Linked DNA regions of Homo sapiens: region 2 is linked to region 1. A link means that fine-mapping ties the variant in region 1 to the plasma level of a protein whose gene starts in the linked region. Region 1 holds a variant in brackets. A gene starts in the other region. All regions are shown on their forward strands.

Region 1 (8,327 bases):
GGTTTGCAGGGCAGGGGCTGGGGGGGCCAGGAAGAAGAACTTGCAGAAATAAATGGATGATGCCATCTGGACCCCCACCCCCCGCCCCCAAGCACACAGAATGTGTGGAAGGAGCCCGTCCGGGGATACAGGAGGGCGGCCACACACCAGTGGCTGCTCTGGGACTCGCCTCGCCTGGAGACTGCCCTGAAGCCTGGGAGCCTGACGTGGAGCAGGCAGGTGGCCGGAGAGGCTGCACCCAGCACCCTGCCCATCCCTCCCACAGGGTCTTTGAGCCGTGCCACACTGTGATCCCCCCACTGCTGTTCTATGAGGGCTGCGTCTTTGACCGGTGCCACATGACGGACCTGGATGTGGTGTGCTCCAGCCTGGAGCTGTACGCGGCACTCTGTGCGTCCCACGACATCTGCATCGATTGGAGAGGCCGGACCGGCCACATGTGCCGTGAGTGCCACCACTGTCCTCAGGGTCCCAAGTCGCTTGTGAGGGGCACAGGCACGCCGGACGGACCAACAGGGTGGGCTCGGGCAGTCAGGGGGGGACCTGGAGGAGGAGGGGGCAGCCCCAGGGCAGAGTGCACCCAGTTCCCTGGAGAGAAGGGAGGGCGTCCACGTCTGGGAGCCCGTGGCGGGGCACTGGGGTGTGGGAGGCCGTAGCCAGGCCCAGGCCCACAGGTGGCTGCGGGCAGCTCCGGAGCAGATGTTGGTGCCCAGCGGCCCGCGTTGCTCTGGGTGGGTGCCCTCCCACCCTCTCAGGTGTGGCTTCCCCTCCCCACAGCATTCACCTGCCCAGCCGACAAGGTGTACCAGCCCTGCGGCCCGAGCAACCCCTCCTACTGCTACGGGAATGACAGCGCCAGCCTCGGGTAGGCACCCTCCCTCCTGGCCCTGCCATGGGCTGCTGGAGCCACCCAGTCCCCAGCCTCCCGCTGCATCTCCCACTCCCAGGCTGGGGTCCTTCTCACCGGAGGGAAAAAGGAGACCCACCAACCCTATGCTCTCTACAGGGCTCTGCCGGAGGCCGGCCCCATCACCGAAGGCTGCTTCTGTCCGGAGGGCATGACCCTCTTCAGCACCAGTGCCCAAGTCTGCGTGCCCACGGGCTGCCCCAGTACGTGCCCCAGGCCGGGGCTGGGGGGTGTGGCAGGACTGGGCCTGTGACTGTTGGCCAGGTCCTGGGGTCTACCCTGGCCCCAATATGGGACCCTGCCTCTCGCCCCTATTGTGGTGGCTGACCCCCAGTAACCTCAGATCTCTCTCCTTCCAGGGTGTCTGGGGCCCCACGGAGAGCCGGTGAAGGTGAGTGGAAGGCATGGCCCAAGAGGGCACTGGGGTCCAAGAGCCCGAGGAGGGAGGCTCTTGAAACACCGGCCCCAGAAATGGTCAGGTGGGGCTCAGGGGTCGGGGTGTCCTCTCTGTGTCAGAGGCCCAGAGAAAGGGCTGCGGGAGGAGCCGGGCTCCCAGAAAGACTCGGGATCTCCCTTCCCAGGTACCCACTCTGTCCGTATTGGGGACGGTGCCGGGGCGTCTGTCCTGGTGTTGCTCTGTGGGTGGGTGCTGGCCCCGAGGCTGGCTGTGCTCTTCCCTTCCTTGGGACGCCCCTTCTGCCCAGCCAAGACTGTGGAGGTGTGAGGTGGGGGGCGCAGGCCAGTCACCCCACAGCCTGCCCACCTTGCAGAGCTTTGTGCCCATCCCTGGGCCCTACCCTGCACTTTTGAAGCCCTACTCCTGCTGGGTCCTCAGTGCAGGCCACACGGCCTCCACACCTGGCTGCCCCGGCACTGCATGAGCCGGGGTGGCTGCTGCACCCCTGGGTGGAGCCGCTGCGGACGCTGGACCTCAGTCCCCTTCCTTGCAGGTGGGCCACACCGTCGGCATGGACTGCCAGGAGTGCACGTGTGAGGCGGCCACGTGGACGCTGACCTGCCGACCCAAGCTCTGCCCGCTGCCCCCTGCCTGCCCCCTGCCCGGCTTCGTGCCTGTGCCTGCAGCCCCACAGGCCGGCCAGTGCTGCCCCCAGTACAGCTGCGGTAAGCCCTTTGCTGGGTGAGGGGCATGGTGTGGCAGGCAGGTGACCCGGAGCCCACTCGGCCCGGACTTTGCTGCTGCCTTGGGGCGTGCACCTGGGGACAGTGCCTACGAGGGCGTCCCCTCCTCCGCTTCCGCAACAGCCTCATCTGGAGACCCCCGAGCGGGCTGTCTAGGCGGTCCGCAATCCTAGAGACCCCAGGGGGTGGGCCTTCGGGTGGGGGCGGGGGACAGACTCCTAATTGCCTCACTCCCGCCCCCGCAGCCTGCAACACCAGCCGCTGCCCCGCGCCCGTGGGCTGTCCTGAGGGCGCCCGCGCGATCCCGACCTACCAGGAGGGGGCCTGCTGCCCAGTCCAAAACTGCAGTGAGTGGCCTGGACCAGGCCCTGTCAGGGGCCGTGGGCTGGGGTCTCCACCTGGGATTTTGGGGGGCCATAACCAGATGCCAGTGCGGCTTGTCCACTGCGGGTCTGTGGCTCTGGACTGAGCCTTCCGCAGAGATGAGGCTGGACAAACCCCAGTGGCGAGCCCGGGAATGAGGCGCCCAGGAGGCTGCAGGGGCGGGAATGCTGAGGGTGAGGGGAGAGTGGGCGGCGGGGGGTGCAGCTGCTTGTCTTCTCGTGGGCAGGCTGGACAGTGTGCAGCATCAACGGGACCCTGTACCAGGTAAGAGCCACGGAGCTCAGACCCCCTCAGCCATAGGGACGGAGCTTCCCACTGACCCTGAGGCCCAGGTAGACTTTGGAGCAACTGCCAACTCCGGCCGAGGCCAGGGACTCGAGTCTCTGCAGACACAGCCCACTATCAAGTGTGGCTGAGGCCCGAGGTCGGCCCCAGGTCCCGGAAATATGGACATCTACACCCTGGCCTGCCTGGCTCCGGGGGGCTCCGGGGGACTTTGCCTCTCCTGGCACCACAGCACAGCCAGGCCTGGATCCCACGGCTCTGTCCTGAGCCGGCTGAGTATGTGGCCCTGCAGAGTGTGTGGCCTTGTTGGGCACCCCATCCAAGGGGGTGCAGCGTGGGGCTCTGCTCTAGGGATGGGGACCCTGGGCTGTGGCCTCTGCACCAAGAGGTGCCACCACGAGTCACCCCAGGGGTGCAACTCGGCCTGGTAGGAAGCGGCCTGGAGGGGGATGTCTGGGAAGTTGGGGGCAGCAAGCCAGTGGGGAGGCAGGGGCGGGTCTCCCCAGGGCCCAAGCTCATGAGTGTCTGCTGCCCTGGCTCTCCCCAGCCCGGCGCCGTGGTCTCCTCGAGCCTGTGCGAAACCTGCAGGTGTGAGCTGCCGGGTGGCCCCCCATCGGACGCGTTTGTGGTCAGCTGTGAGACCCAGATCTGCAACACACACTGCCCTGTGGTGAGCGCTCCCACCCTGCCCCGACCCTGCCCTGGCTCTTGGGGGGCAGCGGTCGCCTGGATTCCAGCCACATGTCCATCCCTCCCGCAGGGCTTCGAGTACCAGGAGCAGAGCGGGCAGTGCTGTGGCACCTGTGTGCAGGTCGCCTGTGTCACCAACACCAGCAAGAGCCCCGCCCACCTCTTCTACGTGAGTAGTGGCTGCCACAAAGAGGAAGGGCAGGGTCTGGGAGCACTGGGGCATGTGGGGACCTGTCGTTGCCAGGCATGCGTCTGGCAGAGGCTGGGGACTCTCTGGAAGCCCACGGGCTGGGGTGCAGACAGAGGGACAGACGGAGGGAGGGTCACTCACCCCGGGGCCTGGCCTCCCTCCAGCCCGGCGAGACCTGGTCAGACGCAGGGAACCACTGTGTGACCCACCAGTGTGAGAAGCACCAGGATGGGCTCGTGGTGGTCACCACGAAGAAGGCGTGCCCCCCGCTCAGCTGTTCTCTGGTGAGGTCCAGGATCCCCGCTCCAGCCAAGGGGGGCTTCACCCCTAGATGGGTTTGGGGGGCTGTGATCATCCCTGCAGCGCCAGCAGACACCCCCTCCTGCTTGGGGCTGTCCACTCCTGAGCCTGGCCCCATGTCCCCATCCCTCACTTCTGTGGGGGCCGCCGAGCGCCTCGGCACTGAGGGCGCCCCTCTGTCGGCACAGGACGAGGCCCGCATGAGCAAGGACGGCTGCTGCCGCTTCTGCCCGCCGCCCCCGCCCCCGTACCAGAACCGTGAGTACCCAGCCTGCTGGGCGGGGCGGGCTCCACCCTCAGAGGTCTAGGAGCAGCTGGGCTGGTCCTAAACCCTGTGTTCCTCTCCAGAGTCGACCTGTGCTGTGTACCATAGGAGCCTGATCATCCAGCAGCAGGGCTGCAGCTCCTCGGAGCCCGTGCGCCTGGCTTACTGCCGGGGGAACTGTGGGGACAGCTCTTCCATGTACGTGCCTGGGCAGCAGGCAGGGAGACGCGATTGGCTGTGGGGTGCAGTCAGGGCCCCCAGGGCTC[T/C]AGGTGCCAGATAGACGAGGGGCAGGACCATGAGGGGCCAGGCAAAGGGCTCTGAGGGTGAGGCGGGAAAGGGGTCCTGAGATGGCAAGGGTGGGGCTGGGGTAACTACATCCCCAGAGCCTGTGTCGGCATCACGCTCTCCTGTTTACTGAGCTCCGCCAGGAACTTGCCGCAGCCGCCCCGAGTCTCCCTCCCTCCCATCAGCACGGAGCCGGGGTCGGCCCTGGTGGGACTGTTGGCGCCTGGGGAACTGGCAAAGGAGAGCTGGTTGTCAGACACTGGCAGCATGCCTCCAGGAGCAGGGAACACGATGAGGCCGCCCAGAGCTCGGCACGGCGCCGGCTTACGGCAGGAGGCTGGGGTGGCGCAGCAGCTGGTGCTGAGCAGCCCCTGCCCACAGGTACTCGCTCGAGGGCAACACGGTGGAGCACAGGTGCCAGTGCTGCCAGGAGCTGCGGACCTCGCTGAGGAATGTGACCCTGCACTGCACCGACGGCTCCAGCCGGGCCTTCAGCTACACCGAGGTGGAAGAGTGCGGCTGCATGGGCCGGCGGTGCCCTGCGCCGGGCGACACCCAGCACTCGGAGGAGGCGGAACCCGAGCCCAGCCAGGAGGCAGAGAGTGGGAGCTGGGAGAGAGGCGTCCCAGTGTCCCCCATGCACTGACCAGCACTGCCGCCCTCCTGACCTCCAAGGAGAACCTCCCATATGTCCTCTGAGCTCGGCTTCCAAGGCCAGTGGAACTTGTGCCCCTGTCCAGGCGGCTGCAGCTTTGAACACACTGTCCACGCCCGCTTTCTTGTGGAGGGTGTGGGCTATGGGTCACCTGCTGCCTGGAGGAGGGGCCCTTACCCACCCCGCCTGCAGCCACCTCTCAGGACCAGCCCCGGGGCTGGCCGAGCTCCTCTGGCCATGCATCCAGCCTGCTGTTCTGGGGACGTGAGCATCACCTGAGGGTCTCAGGAATGACGCTTGGACATGGTGATCAGCTGCCTGGTGGCTGCAGGAGGAAGAACCTCACTCCTACCTCAGCCCTCAGCCTGCGCTCCCCTCCTCAGTACACGGCCAATCTGTTGCATAAATACACTTGAGCATTTTGCAATTTGTGGACTGTGCATTTTTTGAGATTGTTCATAAAATCCAGGAATAGGGTGGGGGCAAACCCGGGCCCTGTGGGGTGCACACCTCAGGCCAGCCACCCAGTACTGGGCAGCCCTGCTGCTTCTGTGGGCTGGCTGGGACAGTGTCTCTCTGCTCAGAGAGGAGAGGCCAGAGCTTGGATCTGCCCCAAGAAGAGACCACCACCCTGCAGAGGTCTTTGAGGGCTTGGCTGCAGTCTAGAGTCCAGGATGCATCTGTTCAGAACACAGAGAGTGAGTGAATGAGAGTGAGAGAATGAATGAGTGAATAAATGGGTGAGTGAATAAGTGAGTGCATGAGTGAGTGAATGAATAAGTGAATGTGTGAGTGAGTGCATGTGAGTGAGTGAATGTGAGTGAATGAATGTGAGTGAATAAGTGAGTGACTGAGTGAATGAGTGAATGAATGAGTGAATGAGTGAGCAAATAAGTGAATGAGTGAGTGAATAAGTGAATGCATGAGTGAATGAATAAGTGAATGTGTGAGTGAATGAGTGCATGTGAGTGAATAAGTGAGTGCATGAGTGAGTGAATAAGTGAATGTGTGAGTGAATGAGTGCATGTGAGTGAATAAGTATGTGAGTGAGAGATTGAGTGAATGAGTGAATGAATGAGTGAATGAGTGAGCAAGTGAGTGAATAAATGAATGAGTAAATGAGTGGGTGAATGAACAAGTGAATGAGTGAATGAGTGAATGAGTGAGCAAATGAGTGAGTGAATAAATGAATGAGTAAATGAGTGGGTGAATGAACAAGTGAATGAGTGAGTGAGCGAATGGGTAAGTGAATGAGCGAATGAGTGAGAGAATGAGTGAATGAGTGAATAAGTGAATGAGTGAATGAGTGAGTGAATGAGTGAATGAGCGAGTGAATGAGTGAGTGAATAAGTGAATGAGTGAGTGAATGAGTGAATGAGTGATGAATGAATGCGTGAGGGAGGGAGTCAGCAGGGAATGGGACCAGCCCAGGCATCCAGGGCACCTCATGGCCCAGGCAAGGGCCTCTGACATGGGAGGGCTGCCCCTGGTGATGGAGGCGTTCTGGGATGGGGGGTTCCAGCTCTGTGCAGCTCCTAGACTCGCCGTTACTGGGGCTGAGCTTGGGCTGTGCACACTCCTGAGTGTATCTGCAGGCAAGCGGGAGGTCGGCAACCCCACGGAGCGTCTGCTGGATGCTCTGCAGAGGGTGGGCTGGGCCCTGGAAGCTTGTCACTCTCTTAGTCCTCTCTGACCACCGCCACCCCTCCCCGGAGCCTCCATGTTCCTGATGCCCAGTGTTCTCCTCTTGGAGGGCTCCAGGGAGTCTGCAGATTCCCTTGGACACACCGGCCTCGGGCTGGGCCCTGCCTCAGCCACATAGCAGCACCAGTAGAGTGGGCGGCACTGACCCGGCATCCCAGGAGTGGGCAGAGGGGTCTGGAGGAGCCCAGGCTGAGCCGGGTGGGGCTGGGGAGCCCACTGCCTAGACAGGGCCAGCGCAGGGCGGGGGAAAGACAGGGAGGGCTGTGGTCGGCCCTGGCCAGGCCTGTGGCCCACACAGGAAGGCCCAGGAACATCTGGAGCCCCCCACGCCTGATGGTGGGACAGGTGGGTGGGAAGCTGCGCCCAGAGTGGAGGCGGTGACGTGGCAGGCACCAGCTCCCTGGTGACTTTCTGGGGCTCAGGGTCCTGCCCGGGCCTCCCACAGCTTCAGGTGGCCCCAGTGTCCCTCTGGGCCAGAGAGGGTCTCAGGGACCTGTGTACCCTGGGCGTGGTGTGGAGTAGCTGAGGGGCCGGCAGGGGGATTCTCCATCAGCAAGGTGGACGTAGGGGCCCAGCCTCATGTGCCTGTCTGGGTGGGCGCTTTTCCCAGCCCTCCTGGACTTCGGCCGCGCCCATTGCTCCAACCTCCCCCAGCCTCCTTTTCAGGTGCCAGGCCCGGCGGGGTGGGGTCTGGGGAACCGACCTTCCATTCTCAGGCGTGCAGCCGCGCTCCCTGCAGCTGCCACGAGGTGGCAGCACAGTCAGGCCCGGCACCCGTCGGCTCAGGCCTGGGCTCCAGGCACCGCAGAGCCAGGGGAGTCCCGGGTCTCAGCCCACATCCCTCACGGCCTGCCCATGGCCCTGGGAGGCTGAGGACACCCCTCACGGCTTACAGGCACATGGCAGCCTGGAGGGCTTGGGCTGGGCCGGAGGGCCGCGGCCCCTCCCGCTACTGTGTGCCTGGCCCTGTGAGGAGGCCCGGCCAGTCCCAGAGTCCCTCTTGCCCTCAAGCCACGTCTGCAGGCACTGGGAGGTCAGAAGGCAAGGCCGGCCCAGTCCCTGCACCAGGATTTTTGACCCAATGGCAGGCAGTGAGGCCTCCGTGGCTCCAGCGTTGGCTCACATCTGGGGGTTGCTTTGACAGGTCTCAGGGCTGGGGTGCCCAGGACCCCCCAGGTCCAGTTCTCCAACTGCCTGCCCACCCTGGCCCACTGTGTGCTCCCAGACACCTGGGCAGTGGGGCTGCCTCCGAGCCTGACTGCTGGGGTGAGCAGGTGGGGCAGAGGAGGCTCCCCAGCCTCGACCCATGTCCTCTTGGCGGCCAGGCGGAAGCACAGCCCGGGAACTCCCGCTCTAAGACCCGTCGGCTCCAGCGCTCTGCTGACCACCTGACCTCACAGCCGCAGGGCACCCTAACCAGCACCAGTGTGCCCGGGGTGGATCAGGTATCCTAGAAAGCTGCCAATTCCTCTCAGGGTAGGGTGGGAACGGCTGACTAATCCCCCACCCCCTGGGGTGAGCT
Region 2 (8,327 bases), not on the chromosome of region 1:
AGCACTTGTGCTTAATTGGGGCATGGCATTAGCTGCAGCATGATGCATTGCTATTAATGGGCTATTTTTCAATAAGAGAAAATGAGTAGGGGGTTGTAGGCCCAGTGACCCATTTCTGAGCAAGCAAATGATAGAACTTTCCTGGCATGGATGAGAGGTTTTTATTCAAATCCAGTGGGACCTCTGAAGGAAAAGCACACTCCAGAATGAATCCTGATGGATACGTTTTATTAAGCATTTCCAGGAATTACAGACTAGGAATGTAGGTAGGGAGAGAGCATAATTGAATAAACATGGAAACTCAAAATTCTCTGAGGCACCCTTGAGGATCCAATGTCACCATCTGAAGATGTGTTCTTTCAGAAGTGAAAAGATTGCATATGTGTGTATTGTGTTCTATGTAAGACATAGAAAAGGAAACCAATTCTGACCGGTCACCCTACAGAAAACTCGATGATTTACAAAACTGTGCTTCATTGTTCACTGGCCTTAGGGCAAGTCCTTTACTTTGGCCTCTTCTGCCAGGGAAGCCATGGTGTGGTGGCCTGGGGTCCTCGCAAGGCCCTGGCTCTAGGCACCGCTCTGCCAGCGCTAGCACTTTGGTTCCAACCATTTGGGATCTTATTCTCATCTTTTAATAAGCAGTTTAGTCATTTCCCAGCCTGACTGCTGTTATTTAATTAACACACCATCAGTATGAGTGCTTTTACAACATTATCTCTAAACCGCTTCAATTTGAACACTGAACAAAGTATAGTGTTATTATTTCTGGATTAGCCAGGACATAATTATAAAGCAACATGTTGCTATCACTTTATGATTTCTATTCCTCATATGGGCATACTTTCTTTAAATCTTTTTCAGAACGAATTGTTTAACCAGGCTTGATTGTCCTTCACGATGATAAACATGAAGTTATTGGTCAGCGTTGTCTTTACCTCTACTTTCATATATTTCATACACATGATGCAATTACTCAGGAGATCTTCTTTTTGCAAGATTTTTCCAAACCCCATTTATATTACTCTATCACTCAAGGTAACAACTAATCTTAGGCATAATATATCACTGCCTGCCTCTGAGGGGATCCAGAAGTTTTGGCAAACGCAATTGAACAGACATACAAACAGCCAGAGAAAGCCAGAGTTATATGTATTTTGGAAGGCAACGGTCCCAGAGGAAACAACAAAAATATCTGCTCAGTAATGCAAAGTGCTCCCTCCACTCTGCTGTAACTCGAAAAGAATTTCTCCCCTATATAAAAATAATTATGTATTAAGTTTGGATTTTCTGGAACTTGAAGCTCCTCTAGCAATAACTATTAAAACGTTATTTTACATGTTTCTATCGCTATTTTTTAGACGTGTCATTCCTAGCCATAAGTACATATGGAGGCTTTGATAAGGGTGTGTCACTGCTGCAAGCACCAAGGCTGTAGTCACCGGAACCATCATGAGAGTCTTAGCTACAGGCTGGGAAATCAAGACCAGAGAGGGGCAGAAATTTCTCCACAGCGAAGTGTATTCAGACCTCATAATGAACCACTTGACTGGGGACCATCAAAAGGACCATCAGACTGGTGTGCAGTTTGCTCAGAAAGACAAAAGTAAAGGCAAGGAGACTGAAATAGAGTCTGCATGAAGGGACTTCCACACTCAAACAAATAAATTATCATTTGCAGGCAAATGGACTAAGGCCAGTTGAGTCCTAACTATCAGAAAATGGAGAGCAAGAATGAAAAGGAAGCCAAGGTTACTAAGGGCTTCATAGGTATTAATAACCTCTAGGTCAGCCCATTAACAGGTCTGTGCAGAGACGGAATCTTGAATGAGAATATTTAATGATTAAAATGTACCCTATAGGCAAACATTCCCTTCCACTCAGAGAACAAGAAGGAATGTGAAAAGTCTGATTTCTGTGGGAAAGCACTTTGGTTCCAACCATTTGGGATCTGATTGACATCTTTAAATGAGCAGTTTAGTCCTTTGCAGGCCTCCCTCCAGTTGCACACAGGAGCATATTGCACATGGGATGCATCCCGTCTGCTCCACACGGAGGGAGTTTCCACTGAGCACAACACAGGGTGTGGAGTAGAATGAAGCCTTGGGTGTGTGTGCATTGTGAGATAAAATGACGATAGGGGCTTGTTTCTTGGCATGGCCCAGCATCAATCTCTGTAGGCAGGGCAGGCTCTATTTACCCATGGGCTGATTTGTTCCACACTAACCCCAAGCCACAGAGGTCACACCATCAACTGAGACTCCCTCAATGTGTCATCACAGCCAGTGTAGGGCAGCCCCTCTCAGGCTGGCACCAAAACCAGAAATGACTAAATATAACGCACTTTTTATCCTGTAGCTTAACATCTCCTTTACGCAAGTAAAATTTTTACAAGGGGCCTACTGAGCACCATATATGTGTCTGCATATTTTAGATTCTATGGAGGTGACCAAAAACATTGGTATGTTCTGTCTTCCTGGGAAGACATTCTTCTTCAAGGGAAGAATGAAACATAAAACACAGTTCTCAGGGCAAAAGTCTTGCTCATGCTTCATTAGGACTTTTGGCCTTGGATGAGACCAGGATTGAGGTGAGGGTTGACCCCCACCTTGACCCCCACACTCCCTCTCCCCCAACCTCCCACACCACACAAAGTACAGAAAAAGAAGTTTTTCTGGTTGTAGAGCCATTGAAGTAACAAATATTGTATAAAGGAGGAATTTCTTCTCTTTTACCCACAAGAAACCTAAGGCCTAAACCAAAAAAATAAATGACTCATTGAAAGATGGGAAAATAGAATCTAGGTCTCCTGGCTCCCAGCTTCATCCAGTAGCTCCCCAAATGGGTTTTCAAATCCAGGGTGCATCCTCAGAGGTGGCACAATTTTTTCACTAAGGCAGGGGTCCCCAGAGTTGTTATGAGATGTTAGGACAAATAAATAAAAGAAAAAGGGAAAACGATCAGGTTCTGTAGTCAACTAAGATGAGAAGAACCTGGATGAAACAGAGATTTTTCCCCTATAAATTTCTTAGCCCATTTGATGTGTGAATGTGAATTGTCAGTCTCTAAAGGGGGGATTATTGGACCCGGAACTCTACCTATGTATCTATGTATGTGTGTGTATCTATGTGTGTATACGTGTGTATGTATGTATGTATGTATGTATGTATGTATCTATCTATCTATCTATCTATCTATCTATCTATCTATCTGTCTGTCTGTCTGTCATGGAACATCTTCCAGACCAGCATTTCACAGGTCCACTGCAGAACTTCAGGCCCTTGTCCTTGGTATGACATGCAAAATGTGTGCTGGGCACTGCACCTGTGTACCAAGATGACTACTGGTGGCTGAGTTTAAACGTAGAGACCATGCTACCCACTCATTGACTTCTCAGTGACATGAAGTTTCCTAAAGCAGATGAAGGCCTCTTCACACATGTCTGCCCCTTACTCCAGGCTTATTACCTTCTGTGGATAAAGAGTGAGTTTGAAAGAAATCAGTGGACACATTAAAAAATATCCAGTAATACTGCAGCTGTTCTAATCCACTCCTACCAACAGTTTTGAAGAGATGTTGATAGCGAATCAAGCTTTATAACCATGTGATCCCATCTTATGGTTTCAATCCATGCACAGGAGGAAAATTGTGGGCACGAAGTTTCCAAAGGGAAAATTTATAGATTGGTAGTTAATGAAATACAGTTTTCCTCCTTGGCAAATTTAATTTACTAGCTTCACTGTATAGGAAAAAGCAGGAAAAAAATTAAAACCAACTCACCTCCAAACCTGTTTTGAGCTTTTACTTGTCTGCCCAATTGATAGTTTCTACTCTCTGCTTTTGATGAAAATATTTTTTATTATTTTAATGTAACTTCTGAAAACTAAATTATCTAGAAGCAAATAAAAAGATATTGCTTTTATAGTTCCCAGAAGGAAAAAACAAACACTAGGAAAGTTCTATCTATCAGATGGGGGAGATGTGATGGAGGCAGTGATATTTGAGCTGAGCCTTGAACAATGAACAGGAGTCTACCAAGCGAGAGGCTAGCGGGTGGCCCTCCAAGATAAAACAACAGCATGTACAAAGGCATGGAGACATACACATCTTGACTTTTCCAGGAATGGTGGGAACGCTGGTGGAGCTAGAATGTAGGTACATAGCATAAAGTGGCAGACGGGAAGCCTTTGGAAATCTTATTACATAGGACCCTGGATGCCATTCCAATGACTTTGAATTTTCTGTAGGCTGCCAGCGAAATTTCCAAGCGTGATAGAGTCATGTCTATCTATGCACTTCAGAAAGACAACCTCAGGGTTAATGAAGAAAATGCATTGGAATATAAGAAACTGGTGACCAGAGTGATCAATTGCATGACTGTTGTGAAAGTCCAGGTGAGGGGAGCTGTGGGCAAGGTCAGAGTTGAGAGGCATTTCAGAGATAAAATGACAGTAACTAAGTAGATGTCAGACTGAGAAGAAAGGGCTGTACCAGATATATGGTGCTATCATTAAGTGAGCTCAACATTGCAGAAAAGGGGTAGGTTTGGTGGGAGTTGCTCACAAAACATGTTTAGTCTAAGCAAAACCATTGCCATGGGCTCAGATAAAAGTTAAGAAGTGGAAACCATTCCTACATTCCTATAGGAGCTGCTATCTGGAAGGCCTAGTATACACGTGGCTTTTCAGCTGTGATTTTGTTTGATTTTAGGGATTATTCTTTTTCTGAATCTGAGCAATGTTAGCGTGTAAAATACTCACGCCCACAGCTTTGACTGGGTGAGAAGTTATCATAAATCATATTGAGTTTGTTGTGATACCTTCAGCTTCAACAAGTGATGAGTCAGGTCAACTCCATGTGAAAGTTCCTTGCTAAGCATGCAGATATTCTGAAAGGTTTCCTGGTACACTGGCTCATGGCACAGATAGGAGAAATTGAGGAAGGTAAGTCTTTGACCCCACCTGATAACACCTAGTTTGAGTCAACCTGGTTAAGTACAAATATGAGAAGGCTTCTCATTCAGGTCCATGCTTGCCTACTCCTCTGTCCACTGCTTTCGTGAAGACAAGATGAAGTTCACAGTGAGTAGATTTTTCCTTTTGAATTTACCACCAAATGATTGGAGACTGTCAATATTCTGAGATTTAGGAGGTCTGCTTCTTATGGCCCCATCATGGAAAATTTGTTTTAAAAAAATTCTCTCTTCAAACACATGGACACAGAGAGGGGAACAACACACACTAGGTCCTGTTGGGGGGTGGAGAGTGAGGGGAGGGAACTTAGAGGACAGGTCAATAGGGGCAGCAAACCACCATGGCACACATATACCTATGTAACAAACCTGCACGTTCTGCACATGTATCCCTTTTTTTTAGAAGAAGAAATAATGAAAAAAAATCTTTTTTCTATTTATATAATCATGGCATTTATAAGCATCTCTATAGAGAAGGATAATTGTGCTGAGATTAGACAGCTGTCTGAGCACCTCACACTGACCTATTTTTAACAAAATGACTTTCCGCATCACCTGATTCCGGTCTCCATGCAGGGTAAGCAGTTCCTAAGCCCTAGAAAGTGCCGATCATCCCTCATTCTTGAATTCCTCCTTTTATTTACCAAAATTCCTGAGCATGTTCAGGAAAGATGAAAAGCTTATTATCAAAATAAGTGGCTGAGATAGACTTCTTGTCACATTTGTTACAGTAAAATGGGTCTCCAAGAAAGAAAGATTTGCCTTGGGCTCTAGCATGGCCATTTATTTAAGAAAGCATCTGAAACATGAAGCTACCACAGCATCTCTCCTGTGGTTCCAGACAGAAGCCTGAGAGTCTAGGAGGAGGTGGACCGAGAAACCCTGCCAAAGTAACTAGTAGTGCCGGGTTTCTCACAACACGATGCAAAGGGGCTAGAATCAGATGACTATTTTCATGTTTCAACATACTACACACTGGAAAACGTTACGGCAGACTCTACTTTATAATGGGGCTGCAAATGTAAAATGACTACCTAGAACTAGGTCCTCTTAATAGCAGCAAAGTTTAAAAGGGTCAGAGGGAGCTCCAGACACAGGTTAGATTTGATTTCTCTCCTAGTTCTGCTGTGAACAAGAGGTATAAGTTTGGCCAACTCACTTAACCCCTGAAGCTCAGTTACCTTATCTGTAAAATGATTGCATTGTACTAGGTGTTCTCTAAAATTTCTTCTACCTCTGACTTTTTAGGAGACTAATTTTTAACTCCTTTTTAAGCTATTGGGAGAAAAATTTAATTTTTTTTCAAAAGTTACCTTGAATCTCTAGAGCAGTTCTCAAAACTATTTTGTCCCAGGCAAAGGAAATGAGACTAGGTACCCAGAATGAGGCACCCTGCATAAAGCTCTGTGCTCTGAAAACCAATGTCAGGGACCCTGTGATAAATAATTAAACCAAGTATCCTGGGACACTGCTAGTGACATCGCCTCTGCTGATCACTCTTGCCAGCGAGACACTCTATACTTGCTTTCTCATCATTGGCATCCAAACTGCCTACTAATCCATTGCTTTGGAAAGTTTTTTTTAATAAAAAGATTATTTCTATTAGGAAGAAAACATCCCATGTTAAATAGGAAAATTAACTGAAATCATTTTCAGATGTGATTTTTAGCACTTATAGCCATCTCAAACCATAGTATTCATTTATACTATGCTATTTATTGTAAAACTTCTTTTTTTTTCCAAGGAAAATAAGATAGTTTGCTTTATTTTAAAACAGTAACTTTCTTATATTGGGGCACTGACCAAAATTCAATACTGGTACAAATATGTTACCTAGGAGGTCAAAATATGTGCCAGGTGAATTTTCTGAATTTCTCTAAAGAGAGAATTTTAAACCTTATAAAACAATTAGAAACAAGTGAGTGAGAGGTGAGCATCAACAACCTGTGTAACATAAGCCACAGTACAAATTTAAGCTGAATAACCAAGCCATGTCAGTTATCCCAAATCATTTTTGTTAATATTTAGGAGGATACACATATTTTCAATAACTTAAAAGTGAATCTTTACTCCTATCTCTTAATACTCGAAGAAGTATAACTTTCTTCTTTTACTAGATTTAAATAATCCAAATATCTACTCAAGGTAGGATGCTGTCATTAACTATAGCTGAGTTTATCCAAAATAGAAAAATCATGAAGATTTATAAAGCATTTTAAAAATAATCATTTATAGCAAGTCCTTGAAAGCTCTAAATAAGAAAGGCAGTTCTCTACTTTCTAATAACACCTATGGTTTATATTACATAATATAATTCAACAAAACAGCATTCTGACCAATGATAATTTATAGGAAATTCATTTGCCAAGTATATGTTTTATTATAAAGTTAATATTTTGACCAATCTTAAAAATTTTTAAACTCTATTCTGACATTTCCAGAAGTATTATCTTAGCAAAGTCATCTTTATGATACCACTTATTAAACTGAAGAGAAACAAGATGGTACATTCTGGGTTTTACTTTAAAAGGGATTTGATTCAATAATTTGATTTATCACTACTTGAAAATTACATTTTCTTCCTCAGTACTGGATGGCAATGAGATGAAAGCAGCTTTCCTGGCTCTCAACTTCCCTTCTTCATCAATTTTTCCAGCGTTTCATAAGGCCTACACTAAAAATTCTAAAACTATATATCACATTAATATAATTACTTATAATTAATCAGCAATTTCACATTATCGTTAAAACCTTTATGGTTAAAAAATGCAAGGTAAGAGAAGAAAAAAACACATTGAACTAGAACTGAACACATTGGTAAAATTAGTGAATACTTTTCATAAGCTTGGATAGAGGAAGAAAGAAGACATCATTTTGCCATGTAACAGGAGACCAATGTTATTTGTGATTTCAGATTGTCTTTGCTGGACTTCTTGGAGTCTTTCTAGCTCCTGCCCTAGCTAACTATGTAAGTCTCACCTTTTCAAGTTTGCTACCAAAATGCATTTGCAAGGAAATGTGATATTAAATCACTCTCAATCTCTTATAAACTTCAGAATATCAACGTCAATGATGACAACAACAATGCTGGAAGTGGGCAGCAGTCAGTGAGTGTCAACAATGAACACAATGTGGCCAATGTTGACAATAACAACGGATGGGACTCCTGGAATTCCATCTGGGATTATGGAAATGTAGGTAGTCAACGTGCAATTTTCACTTTATTGTTTAAAAATACGATTTCTTTTTAACAAAAAATGTGCATGTTAACCATAAAGAAATTAAAAATAAATTCTAATTACACATAGCATACAGTTATAAGTAAAGGTGACCATTTTGCTCATCCGATTTTGTT

Which allele goes with the higher level. Alleles are on the strand shown, and positions count from the first base shown. The strength of an association depends on the size of the effect and on how common the allele is.
For the plasma level of the protein whose gene starts at base 5,028 in region 2, T is the low allele of the variant in region 1 and C is the other (strong association).

The links. PIP is the posterior inclusion probability: the model's chance that the variant is causal. Protein levels are from antibody-based Olink assays in UK Biobank. Linkage for the fine-mapping came from a reference panel and not from the study's own genotypes, which makes the PIPs less certain.
Region 2: it holds the start of GKN1, and the variant in region 1 is fine-mapped to the plasma level of the GKN1 protein (UK Biobank, PIP above 0.99).

The regions. Positions count from the first base shown.
Region 1 is chr11:1,195,611-1,203,937 of GRCh38, forward strand. It overlaps MUC5AC (mucin 5AC, oligomeric mucus/gel-forming), which reads left to right. Exons shown (of 49, transcript NM_001304359.2): 37 at 266-444; 38 at 778-865; 39 at 1,007-1,110; 40 at 1,267-1,298; 41 at 1,858-2,029; 42 at 2,293-2,394; 43 at 2,658-2,695; 44 at 3,264-3,386; 45 at 3,477-3,575; 46 at 3,761-3,880; 47 at 4,085-4,154; 48 at 4,245-4,359; 49 at 4,828-5,528. The coding sequence ends at 5,092. Among named protein-coding and RNA genes, the nearest start is that of MUC5B, 23 kb to the right of the region's middle. RefSeq lists enhancers at 6,817-7,324, 7,325-7,831. The variant T/C (reference allele first, on the strand shown) is at 4,428.
Region 2 is chr2:68,969,609-68,977,935 of GRCh38, forward strand. GKN1 (gastrokine 1) reads left to right here and starts at 5,028. Exons shown (of 6, transcript NM_019617.4): 1 at 5,028-5,081; 2 at 7,887-7,940; 3 at 8,029-8,166. The coding sequence starts at 5,070. RefSeq lists a silencer at 2,518-2,750.